Regions from separate parts of the Homo sapiens genome. Here region 2 is linked to region 1. The links come from fine-mapping of genetic effects on gene expression. A gene starts in region 1. The other region holds a variant in brackets. All regions are shown on one strand. Distances are between the middles of the regions. Region 1 holds the start of PPM1M (protein phosphatase, Mg2+/Mn2+ dependent 1M). Region 2 overlaps ALAS1 (5'-aminolevulinate synthase 1).

The links. PIP is the estimated chance that this variant, and not a neighbour inherited with it, causes the effect.
Region 2: its variant is the best candidate, but not a certain one, in a credible set for the expression of PPM1M in whole blood (TOPMed, PIP 0.82).

What each region holds. Positions count from the first base shown.
Region 1 is chr3:52,242,673-52,248,044 of GRCh38, reverse strand. PPM1M (protein phosphatase, Mg2+/Mn2+ dependent 1M) reads right to left here and starts at 2,286. Exons shown (of 10, transcript NM_144641.4): 1 at 1,997-2,286; 2 at 1,233-1,350; 3 at 817-1,071; 4 at 251-363. The coding sequence starts at 2,220. RefSeq lists silencers at 1,943-2,002, 2,043-2,412.
Region 2 is chr3:52,205,647-52,211,018 of GRCh38, reverse strand. It overlaps ALAS1 (5'-aminolevulinate synthase 1), which reads right to left. Exons shown (of 12, transcript NM_000688.6): 7 at 4,996-5,180; 8 at 4,268-4,447; 9 at 2,772-2,936. Among named protein-coding and RNA genes, the nearest start is that of ALAS1, 10 kb to the right of the region's middle. RefSeq lists an enhancer at 1-286. The variant C/T (reference allele first, on the strand shown) is at 2,932.

The sequences.
Region 1 (5,372 bases):
ATGATCCCTTAAAGCCCTCCATGACTACCTAAGACCTGCAAGGGTGAAGGCTTAGCCCTTTAGCGGGGCCTTTGAGGTCCCTGCCCTCCCCGGCAGCCACTGTCCACACTCGACACATAACAAGTACACACACAATTCAGCCAGTCAATCCTTCCTACTATCCCTCCACTTCCAGCCACCTTTGCTTGTCCCCATTGCTGCTTATGCCCTCCCCATCCCACCCTTGCCCACCCTCCAAGGGGTGACTCACCTGCTATCCCCAGCATTGGCCATGTACAGCTTTCCCTGCAGGGACACAGCCACCAGGGCTGTGCAGCCGCCCATCTGGCCTGAGGCCTCCAGCTCCCGCCCGATCACCTCATCCTGGGGAAAACCGAGGCCACCTTAGCTGCTGCCTGTTCTGCCACCATACTACTTTGTCTCTCAATCCCCACCCTACCCTACAGTTCACTTCTACCAGCAGGCCTGACAGTCCCAGCCCAAAGTCCAGCCATACCTCCAAGATCCCTGCAGTCAGGAGATCTAGACAAGGGAAGTGCTACTCAAAATAGGAAGAGAAACCAGCCCCTGCACCAAGGACCAATAGGGTATTCAATTAGATGATGCAGGTAAAAGCAGTTAGCACACAGTAGGTGCTGGATAAATGAGAGGGGTTATGCTGATAGTGATGGCTGTTAGTAACAATCCAACCAACCCAATCTCATCCTCCCAATCCAAGGATCTGGTGTGATGACCATGGGTATACAGAGATGCCATTTCCTGAGATCCCCGGGGCAAAATCTCCACTTCTTCCCCAGCCAAAAGCCACACACTCACACATTCCTGAAAGGCACTCTCCAATGCCCCGATCACCAAGTCTTCTGCCCTGATGCCCTTTTCCTCCACAAACTGAGGGTCACTGGGGCAGATGCAGCGGCCATTGAGGTGCATGGGGGGCTGAGTGGCCACCAAGCCTTCCACCACGGCCTCCAGCTGCCGGCGCAAGCAGGAGTGCAGGGTGTTGGCAGCCAAGATGGCTGCTGCAGGACCGCCGTGCCCATCGAACAGTGCCCAGTAATGGCCTGTCAGGAACTGCACAGGAAGGGCTCAGTGTCAGCCTCTGCCTGACTTCCCCACTTGTCCCCTGACGCAACCTAACTAGGACCTGGGGCAGCAGGGTAAGAACCTCAGCCTGCAGGTCGTGGCCCCAGCCTGTCGGAGGGATTCCAGCCAAGAACTCAGACTGCACTCACCTCCTCTGGGCACAGGGTCAGCCACTCTTCTTCAGCCCCAAACTCACATCTCCGGATGCACAGCTTCCCACAGGCGGCTTGATCCTCATTGAATTCAGATTTCTCTGCATTGATAATCCTGAGGCCGGGAAATGGTAAGCGACCCTCCAGGGACACACCTATGTCCCCATGGGCACAGGGACCCAAGCCAGCACAGGGAGAAGACCCCTCCCTCTGGGGCAACAGCTCCCCAGTGCTGTCCCTAACACACACTTAGACAACCACGATGTAAGCTTCCTAACTTCACTGGCCTCATGGCTAAGGTAAAAGTCAGGGCCCAGCTCCTCTGGAGCCTACCTGGTGACCCAGGGCTAGACGGTAAGGGTAGGTTGCCATTCCTGCCCCTGTCCTGTCGCAGCCCAAAGCCCTGTCCCATACAGCGCAGGTCATACCCAGGGTGAGATGGTGGGGGTAGAGGGCGAGGGGAAATCTCCAAAGCCCCGAATGCTGGAACTCTACCGAGTCTCTGGGCCTCATCTTGGAAGCCCCTGGGCTGCAGGTCCTTCCCGACCTCCTGTCTTCTCTGAGGGGGAGGTCGGAATCCCAAGGAAAACGCTGGGTCGGGATGACCGGGAAGTTGTCAGGATTCGGAGGTGAGGGCAAGAAGGGGCTGTCCACAGGTGGGTGGGGACTGTCACTCAGCTCCTCCCGCTTTCTAGGCGGGCGCAGGACCCGAAGCGGGTTCAGGCCCGGGCCTGAGCTGGGGGTCGGGGAGGGGCACTCACTCGGCGTAGCCTGCATTCCAGGGTAGCGTGCGTCCTCGTGCGGGGCTGCGCACGGGCCGGGAGTCTGGGCGGCGCGAGGCGTCGGCCGCCCCGGGGCTGGAGCTGGAGCCGCGAAGGAAGCGGGGCCGTCGGTAGGGCACGGGGCTGGCATGCGGCCCAGGCGGCCGCGGCGCGGGGAGCGGCTCCCCAGGCAGGAAGCGGCGCCGGAACCAGCCGGCGGACATGGCGCGGCGGCAGGGGGCTGCCCGCGGAGCGCGGGGCGCTAGGGCTGGGCCGCCCGCGGGAGGAAGAAGCGGGCCGCGGGCGGAGCCGAGGGAGGGGTGCGCCGGCGGGAGGCGGGGCCGGGGGCGCGCAGACGGGAGGCGTCGCCCCCCAGCCCCGACCTCCGCCCGGGAGTGCGTGCGCGGCTGGTTCGCTGACTCCAGGGGTCAACGCTCGCGACCGCCTGAAGAAGCCCACGCCGGCATCAGCCCCATTTGACAAGCAGGAAAACCGAGGCCTAGAGAGGCGAAGTCGCCTGCCCAGCGTCCCACAGTAGCCAGGGAGGACTGTTCACCCACGCTTGCGGGGCACTGGTGGTTGAGAGGAAAAGTCCCCCACACTCCGCGGGGCCAGCGTCGCGCAGATCCTCGGACCTCCTCCTGCTGGGTGGGGACCTGACGCAAGGGGAAGATGGGGACAAAATGAGCTGGGAGGTGTCAGACCCCCACATTGAGTAAATGCCACCGAGCACAGGTTCCTTCAGGCGGCCTCCAATCCTCTCCACCCCGGCCTGCCACCCTCCACCCCAGACGGGCTTAGTGGGCACCTTGGCTTTCCCCGTCCTGAGAGGCTGCTGCCACCCTCGAGGACAGTCTTCCAAATGGCTGTCCCTGCATTCAAGATGTCTTCGCGGAATAGACAGCAGGATCCTTACTGGACTGTGAGTGAGTGACGGACAAGAGAAATCTGTGTGAGTGTAAAGGGGAATCCGTGGTCCCCCAAAGGCTCCAGCTGGTCCGAGTTCAGACCTGGGACGGAGGGAAGTGAAAGACGAGGAACCATCTTGCGGTCTCTCAACCACTGGCTAGCTGTCACCAGGCGGTCAGCCGCAGTGTCCCCTTCACATCTGCGAGTTAACAAAGCACTTTGTCACCCATTTGTCACTCAAGTCCAACTCCCTGTGCAAAAGTGTTACTTTGGCCGGAGGCAGTGGCTCACGCCTGTAATCCCAGTGCTTTGGGAGGCCGAGGCGGGCGGATCACTTGAGGTCAGGAGTTCGAGACCAGCCTGGCCAACATGGTGAAACCCCGTCTGTACTAAAAATTAGCCAAGCGTGGTGGTGTGCGCCTGTAATCCCAGTTACTCAGAAGGCTGGGGCACAAGAATCGGTTGAACCCAGGAGGCAGAAGTTGCAGTGAGCCGAGATGGAGCCACTGCACTCCAGCCAGGGCAACAGAGCGAGACTCAGTCTCAAAAAAAAGAGTGTTACATCATATGGACGATTCTGAGGCCCATGGAGGGGAAGTCTTGGACACCCAGGGCTGTACTATTTCCATTATGACAATGCAGCTGACTCAATCCTCGCCCCCAGGGCACTTCTCTTCCCCTTTCCTCCTCCAGGAAGCCAGGGCTTGCCAATTAAAAGCGGCTAAGGCTCCACAGCCCAGTGCCTGCATATGAGCTGTATGAGGAGTCCACCTTCACCTCCACTCCCTAGCCCAGGTAGACGCTCAGTAAGCCCTACTTCCTCCCAGCAGCTAGTCCTGCCCCAGTGGGAGTTCCTCGGGCCCAAGAAGGAAGGTTCTTAGGGCAGGGACCTGTGCCCAACACCCACTCCCTCCGATGACTCAGTCCCAGACCAGCCTGGGGGCTGATTGACTGAACCCACAGTGTCTGCTGGGGCCACACTGGGCACAGGAACGCAGTGCTAATGGAGACAAGCCAGGCCTCTGCCCACCAAGCCCCCTGCAGTGATGGTAGCAGTTCTGGTGGATGCTGCTTCATCCAGCTGGCAAGAGGATAGGGGCGATGTCAGAGAAAGTTTCCCAAAGGACCTCTGAGCTGTGAATTGTCACTGTGACAGAACAGAAAGGTACCAGGGTGGGGCAGGCCCAATTCAGTCTATGGGGCCACTTCCTCACCCTCACCAGTTGATGCCTCAGAGGATTTTAAAGTCTAAAATTGGACAAAACAAAGTGCATACACTCTATTCCCCAACCCACCCCTGGGTGGGGGAAAGCCTTGTCCTGAAGTATTTTCACAGAAGCTCTGGGCAACCAAATGTCATAGGCAGTCTGTTGCACAGCTTAGCCATTGTCTATTTTCAGAGCCATGTGGAACCACATGGCAATCCCATCCTCTCTGTTCCAAGGTGGCCTGAGTGTTCCTTCAGTGCTACCAGGCTCTTCTGGCTTCCTGGGCTCCTAAGCGCCTCACTCTTGCCTGGATCTTAAGCCTATGTCTCTTGGTTTACTCCCTCATTTTGCTGAAGTGCATCCTTCAACAACTTTCCAACAAAGGGTGACTGGGAGGTACTTTCCTGAGAGATGTTATTTATCTATCTTTTTCTGTGAATGGTCTGTTTGTATCCTTTGCCACACTTTCTACTGGGCCATTTGTCTTTTTCTTTTTCTTTTTTTTTTTTTTGATACAGAGTTTCGCTCTTGTTGCCCAGGCTGGAGTGCAATGGTGTGATCTCGGCTCCCCATGACCTCTGCCTCCTGGGCTTAAGTGATTCTCCTGCCTCAGCCTCCTGAGTAGCTGAGATTACAGGCATGTGCCACCACGCCTGGCTACCATTGGTCTTTTTCTTATTGACTTATGAGAGCTCTTTATATATTAGAGAAATCAGCTCTTTATTTTGAAATGAGTTACAAGTATGCTGTTTGTAACAAGTTACAGTTTGTTATTTGTGTTTTGGCTGTGATGGTGGCTTTTTCCATATAGACTTTATTTTTTATGCAAATGGATTATTGATCTTTTCATAAAGGAAAATAAAAATTTCAGGACCCCCAAATTTGTTATGCTAAAGGGAGAGTTAAGCTTGGAGACTGAGCCACACAACACTGGCATTCCTTTTTTTTTTTTTTTTTTTTTTTTTTTTTTTGAGATGGAGTCTTGCTCTGTCACCCAGGCTAGAGTGCACTGGCACAATCCCGGCTCACTGCAACCTCCGCCTCCCGAGTTCAAGCAATTCTCCTGCCTCAGCCTCCCCAGTAGCTGGGATTACAGGCACCCGCCACCATGCCCAGCTAATTTTTGTATTTTTAGTAGAGATGGGGTTTCGCCATATTGATCAGGCTGGTCTCGAACTCCAGACCTCAGGTGATCCACCCGCCTCGGCCTCCCAAAGTGCTGGGATTACAGGCGTGCTGGGATTACAGGCGTGCTAGGA
Region 2 (5,372 bases), 37 kb after region 1:
ATGGTGTTGCCAACAGTATCCAATACAGTAACATGTTGTACAGGTTTGCAGCCTAGGAGCAACACGCCATACCACAAAGCCTAGGTGTGCGGTAGGCTATATAATCTAGGTTTATGTAAGTACACTCTATGGTGTTTGCACAATGATGAAATCGCCTAGTGATGCAATTCTCAGAACACATCCCCCATCGTTAAGCAATGCATGACTATAAAAGGATATCTAATCTTCCTTTTTTTTTTAGAGACAGGGTCTTGCTCTGTCACCCAGGCTGGAGTGCAGTGGCATGATCATAGCTCTCTGCAGCCTCAACCTCCTGGGCTCAAGTATTCCTTCCGCCTCAGCCTCCCAAGTAGCTAGGACAGGTGTACACCACCATGCCTGGCTGATTTTTTAAATTTTTATTTTGTGTAGAGAGGAGGCCATGCTTCGTTGCCCAGGGCTGGTCTCAAACTCCTGGGTTCAAGTGATCCTCCTGTCTCAGCCTCCCAAAGTGCTGGGATTCAGGTGTGAGCTATCGTGCCTGGCTACTCACTTTTAAAAGGGTAAAAAAGCTAAGGAAAGTTACAAAAGGGTCTTGCCCAAAGTCATATGGCCAAGCTGGTGTCTAACCAGGATCAAAATGCAGGTCTTCCAATCAGACCTGACACCTCAGTGACTGGTCCCAGTGTGCCCAAATACCCTGCTGCTGCCTCCCTTCCCACCATCTTATTCTCCTTTCCCTTTCTCACCCAGGCTTGCTGCTCTGACAGCCAGCACAGCTCCACTCCCCATGTCTGCACTGCATGTGCTCTTTGGAACAAGACTGGCTCTGCAGTGCTTGTACCATCCTCCCACAGGGAACATTATCCCAGAGGCTGGAATTTTACCCAGCTAAGGCATTAACTGTTTTGGTATGACTGGTGTTATTTCCTACTTAAGAACAAAACTCTTGACAATTAATGCATTAGGATTGATTTAGGGCCAGACTTGGTTTTCAATTCTCATTGAGTCCTTTTGTGTGATCTACATCTCAAGTTTCAGGATTAAAAACTCCAGAAGAGGCCAGGTGCAGTGGCTCACACCTATAGTCCCAGAACTTTGGGAGGCCGAGGGGGGCAAATCACTTGAGCTCAGGAGTTAGAGACCAGCCTGGCCAACATGGTGAAACCCCGTTTCTACTAAAAATACAAAAATTAGCCAGGCATGCTAGCGCACACCTGTAGTCTCAGTTATTCAGGAGGTTGAGGTGGGAGGATCACTTGAGCCCAGGAGGTGGAGGCTGCAGATGAGCTGTGATCACACCTGGGCACAGAGTGAGAGCCTGTCTCAAAAAACAAAAAGAACTCCAGAAGAGTCTTCATAGATCTTAACATAACATTCTATAATTAATGTTTTTGCTAAAACCACATGCAAAGCTGGGTTGGTTCAATCTCCTATGGTATAAAGTTTCTCTCTCCAGCCTTTTCCATCTCACAATGACCATACCTTCAAAGAGCCCACATCAGGAGACATCCTTAAAAGAAAAGAGCTTCTGGCCGGGTGTGGTGGCTCACGCCTGTAATCCCAGCACTTTGGGAGGCTGAGGCGGGCAGATCACGTGGTCAGGAGATTGAGAACATTCTGGCTAACACGGTGAAACCCCGTCTCTACTACAAATACAAAAAATTAGCCAGGCATGGTGGCGGGTGCCTGTAGTCCCAGCTACTTGGGAGGCTGAGGCAGTAGAATGGCATGAACCTGGGAGGTGGAGCTTGCAGTGAGCTGAGATCGCGCCACTGCACTCCAGCCTGGGCAACAGAGTGACACTCCATCTCGGAAAAAAAAGAAAAAAAAGAAAAGAGCTTCTTGAATTAAGACACATGATCAGGTGTTTTTCTCCTGGTAGTGGTTCCACCCTTAGAACTCCCAGGCTTTCTGGGTCTGCACTAGGTTCTCATACCCCTTGACAGTGCTGAAGGACGCTTTTTAAAAAGCCTGCCCTTCCTTTACCAAGCATAGGCTATAAACTGGCATTTTAGCTAACTGCTAGATGGGTTTCCAACTGCCTTACCCACTTCTGAAGGCTTAAAAAAATTCTTCAAAATTACAAAAATTCTTCAAATTTATGTAATTTTCGTCTCTTTAGGGTTCTCATAGGTTCTCAGAGGGAATGTTTATAATAACTGTTTGCATACAACTTATTTACCTTCTCCACATATATTTTGATTTAGGTCCTATTGTTTTCTCCATTATATTGATGATGAAACTGAGGTATAGAAAGGTTAACTACCAACTCAAGGTCACACAACTAGTGAGGTGGCAGGGCTCCAAAGTCTAGCTCCCATCTACCACGAGACATAGCCTCTGTATGAGGAAGAGCAGAGGAAAACCAGGATGAATTAGAATGTTCCCACGTGGCAGGCACGGAGTTCAGCACTTCACAACACCTGAACCTAACAAGTGCTCCAGGAGAAAAGTACTAGAATTCCTTTTTCTTTTTAATTAAGAACAGCCTGAGGCACAGAGAGTACAGGCTCTTGCCATGGCATGGGGCTAGACCCACAACTATGTCTGAAATGAGCTCAGATAGCAATAAATGGTCTATCAGTGTGTTAGGCTGTGGGATTTACTTTGATTCTAAGAGCCATGCCTCCATGACCCAAGGGATTCCACTAAGCTGGGCCAAAAGAAAGAGTGGCCCAGGCTTCATATGCTGTCAGGCTGTCTCCTCACCTGATCCCAGTTAGACTAGTTAGTCCTTGGCCTTGTTAGGATAATGGAATTTTAGTGTATGTAATACAATGTATACATACCAAGTGTTCCAGAAATGATGTCCATTTTTGGCATGACTCCATCCCGATCCCCAATCCCTCCGCCTCGAGCCCCATAAAGCCCCACTGCGTGGACCTCATCCACGAAGGTGATTGCTCCAAACTCATGGGCCACATCACACAGCTCTTCCAGTGGGCACAC[C/T]GCCCCTGAGGAAAGACCAGAGACTGCTCTGAAGAGCTTTTGCCGCTTCAGAAATTTCTGTTTTGGTTAGAGTCAGAACAACGTAAACTTCTATTCTAAGGTATCATTTTCAATATTGGAAAGAAAATGAACTTCCTCTAATTTCTAGGTTACCTGGGGTCCCAGAGCCTAGTAAAAGCCAGAATAGAAAATCCACTTTCACCCAAATCTATTAGAAAAAAGTCCACCAATTACAAATCTTGGCAGAATGCAATACTACACAGCAATAAAAAAAGAATGAGACCATGTCCTTTACAGCAATACGGATGGAGCTAGAGGCCATCCTAAGTGAATTAATACAGGAACGGAAAAACCAAATATCGCTCTCACTTATAAGTGGGAGCTAAACACTGAGAACACATGGACACAAAGAAGGGAACAACAGACACCAGGGACCGACTTGAGGGTGGAGGGTGGGAGGAGGGTGAGATCAAAAACTACCATTGGGTACTATGCTTACTACCTAGGTGATGAAATAATTGGTACACCAACACCCTGTGACACATAATTTACCCATATAATAAACCCGCACATGTACCCACTGAACCTAAAAGTTGGAAGAAGAAAAAAAAAAATCCTGGCAGAAAGGAAAAGAAAATTAAAAAACACAACAGGCCAGGCGCGGTGGCTCACGCCTGTAATCCCAGCACTTTGGGACGCCAAGGTGGGCGGATCACAAGGTCAGGAGATTGAGACCATCCTGACTAACACAGTGAAACCCCGTCTACTAAAAATACAAAAAGTTAGGCCAGGTGCGGTGGCTCACACCTGTAATTCCAGCTCTTTGGGAGGCTGAGGCGGGCAGATCACAAGGTCAGTAGATCGAGACCATCCTAGCTAACATGGTGAAACCCTGTCTCTACTAAAAATACAAAAAATTAGCTGGGCGTGGTGGCAGGCGCCTGTAGTCCCAGCTACTCAGGAGGCTGAGGCAGGAGAATGGCGTGAACCCAGGAAGTGGAGCTTGCAGTGAGCCGAGATCACGCCACTGCACTCCAGCCTGGGTGACAGAGGGAGACTCCGTCTCAAAAAAAAAAAAAAAAAAAATTAGCCAGGCGTGGTGGCAGGTGTCTGTAGTCCCAGCTACTCGGGAGGCTGAGGCAGGAGAATGACGTGAACCCGGGAGGCGGAGCTTGCAGTGAGTCGAGATCGCACCACTGCACTCCTGCCTGGGCAACAGAGCGAGGATCGGTCACAAAAAAAAAAAATTAAAAAACACAACAAAACACCATACTTTTAAAGAGTTCAGGCATAGTTTTTCATCTTAGGTTTCAGAGGAACCTCTATCCACACTTACCATCCATTGAATGGACAGTTTCAAATGCCACAATCTTGGGGACTGAGGGGTCAGATCTTTGCAGCAGTTCTCTGAGGTGGCTGACATCATTGTGGCGGAAGATGTACTTTGGCACTCGGCTGTTTCGAATCCCTTGGATCATGGAGGCATGGTTCCCAGAATCAGAGTAAATCTCACAGCCTAAGACAACAAAAATGCTATTTATTGCCATGTGCATCGAAGACAAATTATTTCCTAGAGAAAGACAACAGACTTTTCCTTGGAAATGATGCTTTGAAAATGCCTAGTAGGAAAAAGACACTGTGTGCCAGTTTCTTCCTGGCAAAATAACTAGTTAGTGCTTCCCTTGTGAGAAGGCCCAAAGGTGTAGAATAACCTTGTGGCAGGCCATTAATCTGCTCTTAAATCTGACTGCCTCACTCCAAACTCAATCAAGAGCTAACTAAATGATTAAGAGACTTCTCCAAAGGATCATCTTAGAATACAAAACATATTTGAGGCAATTAGCTCAAGGATGAGACGTTTCAAGTTTGAATTTTCACTGGTATCACGTTCTCCTGGAACCCATAATGTACAGTCAGCATTTCATGCTTGACCCCAGAACAAATGCCCAGATAGGATTATGATTTTCAATTGAGAGGTTCTGGTAAGGCTTCTTTGTTGCCAATATTCTTGTTATTACTAAGAAACCCAAAAAACTCGAAGGCACTCATGCCAGGCTTCCTTACCTGGCATCATCTTAGCCAGGGTGAAGAGGGTTGAGTCATTGGCCACAAAGCACGAGGAAAACAAGAGTGCGGCATCTTTCCCATGGAGGTCTGCCAGCTCCCGCTCTAAGTCCACATGGAATTTACTAGTTCCAGAAATATTTCTAGTACCACCTGCCCCAGCACCATGTTGTTTCAAAGTGTCCCTGTTTAAAAATACAAACAAAACCAGAAAATAAAGCTCATGGTTCTCAACACCATGTGAATTTTTTCCCCTTTCTAGGATCCAGGAGACTGAAACATGTTGATGTAGCAACTCTCTCACTGTGAAACCTGGGGTCAGAAATTTCAACTGATTTCATCTTCAGACTAGGTGGGAGAAGGTGTCAATGCTAGGG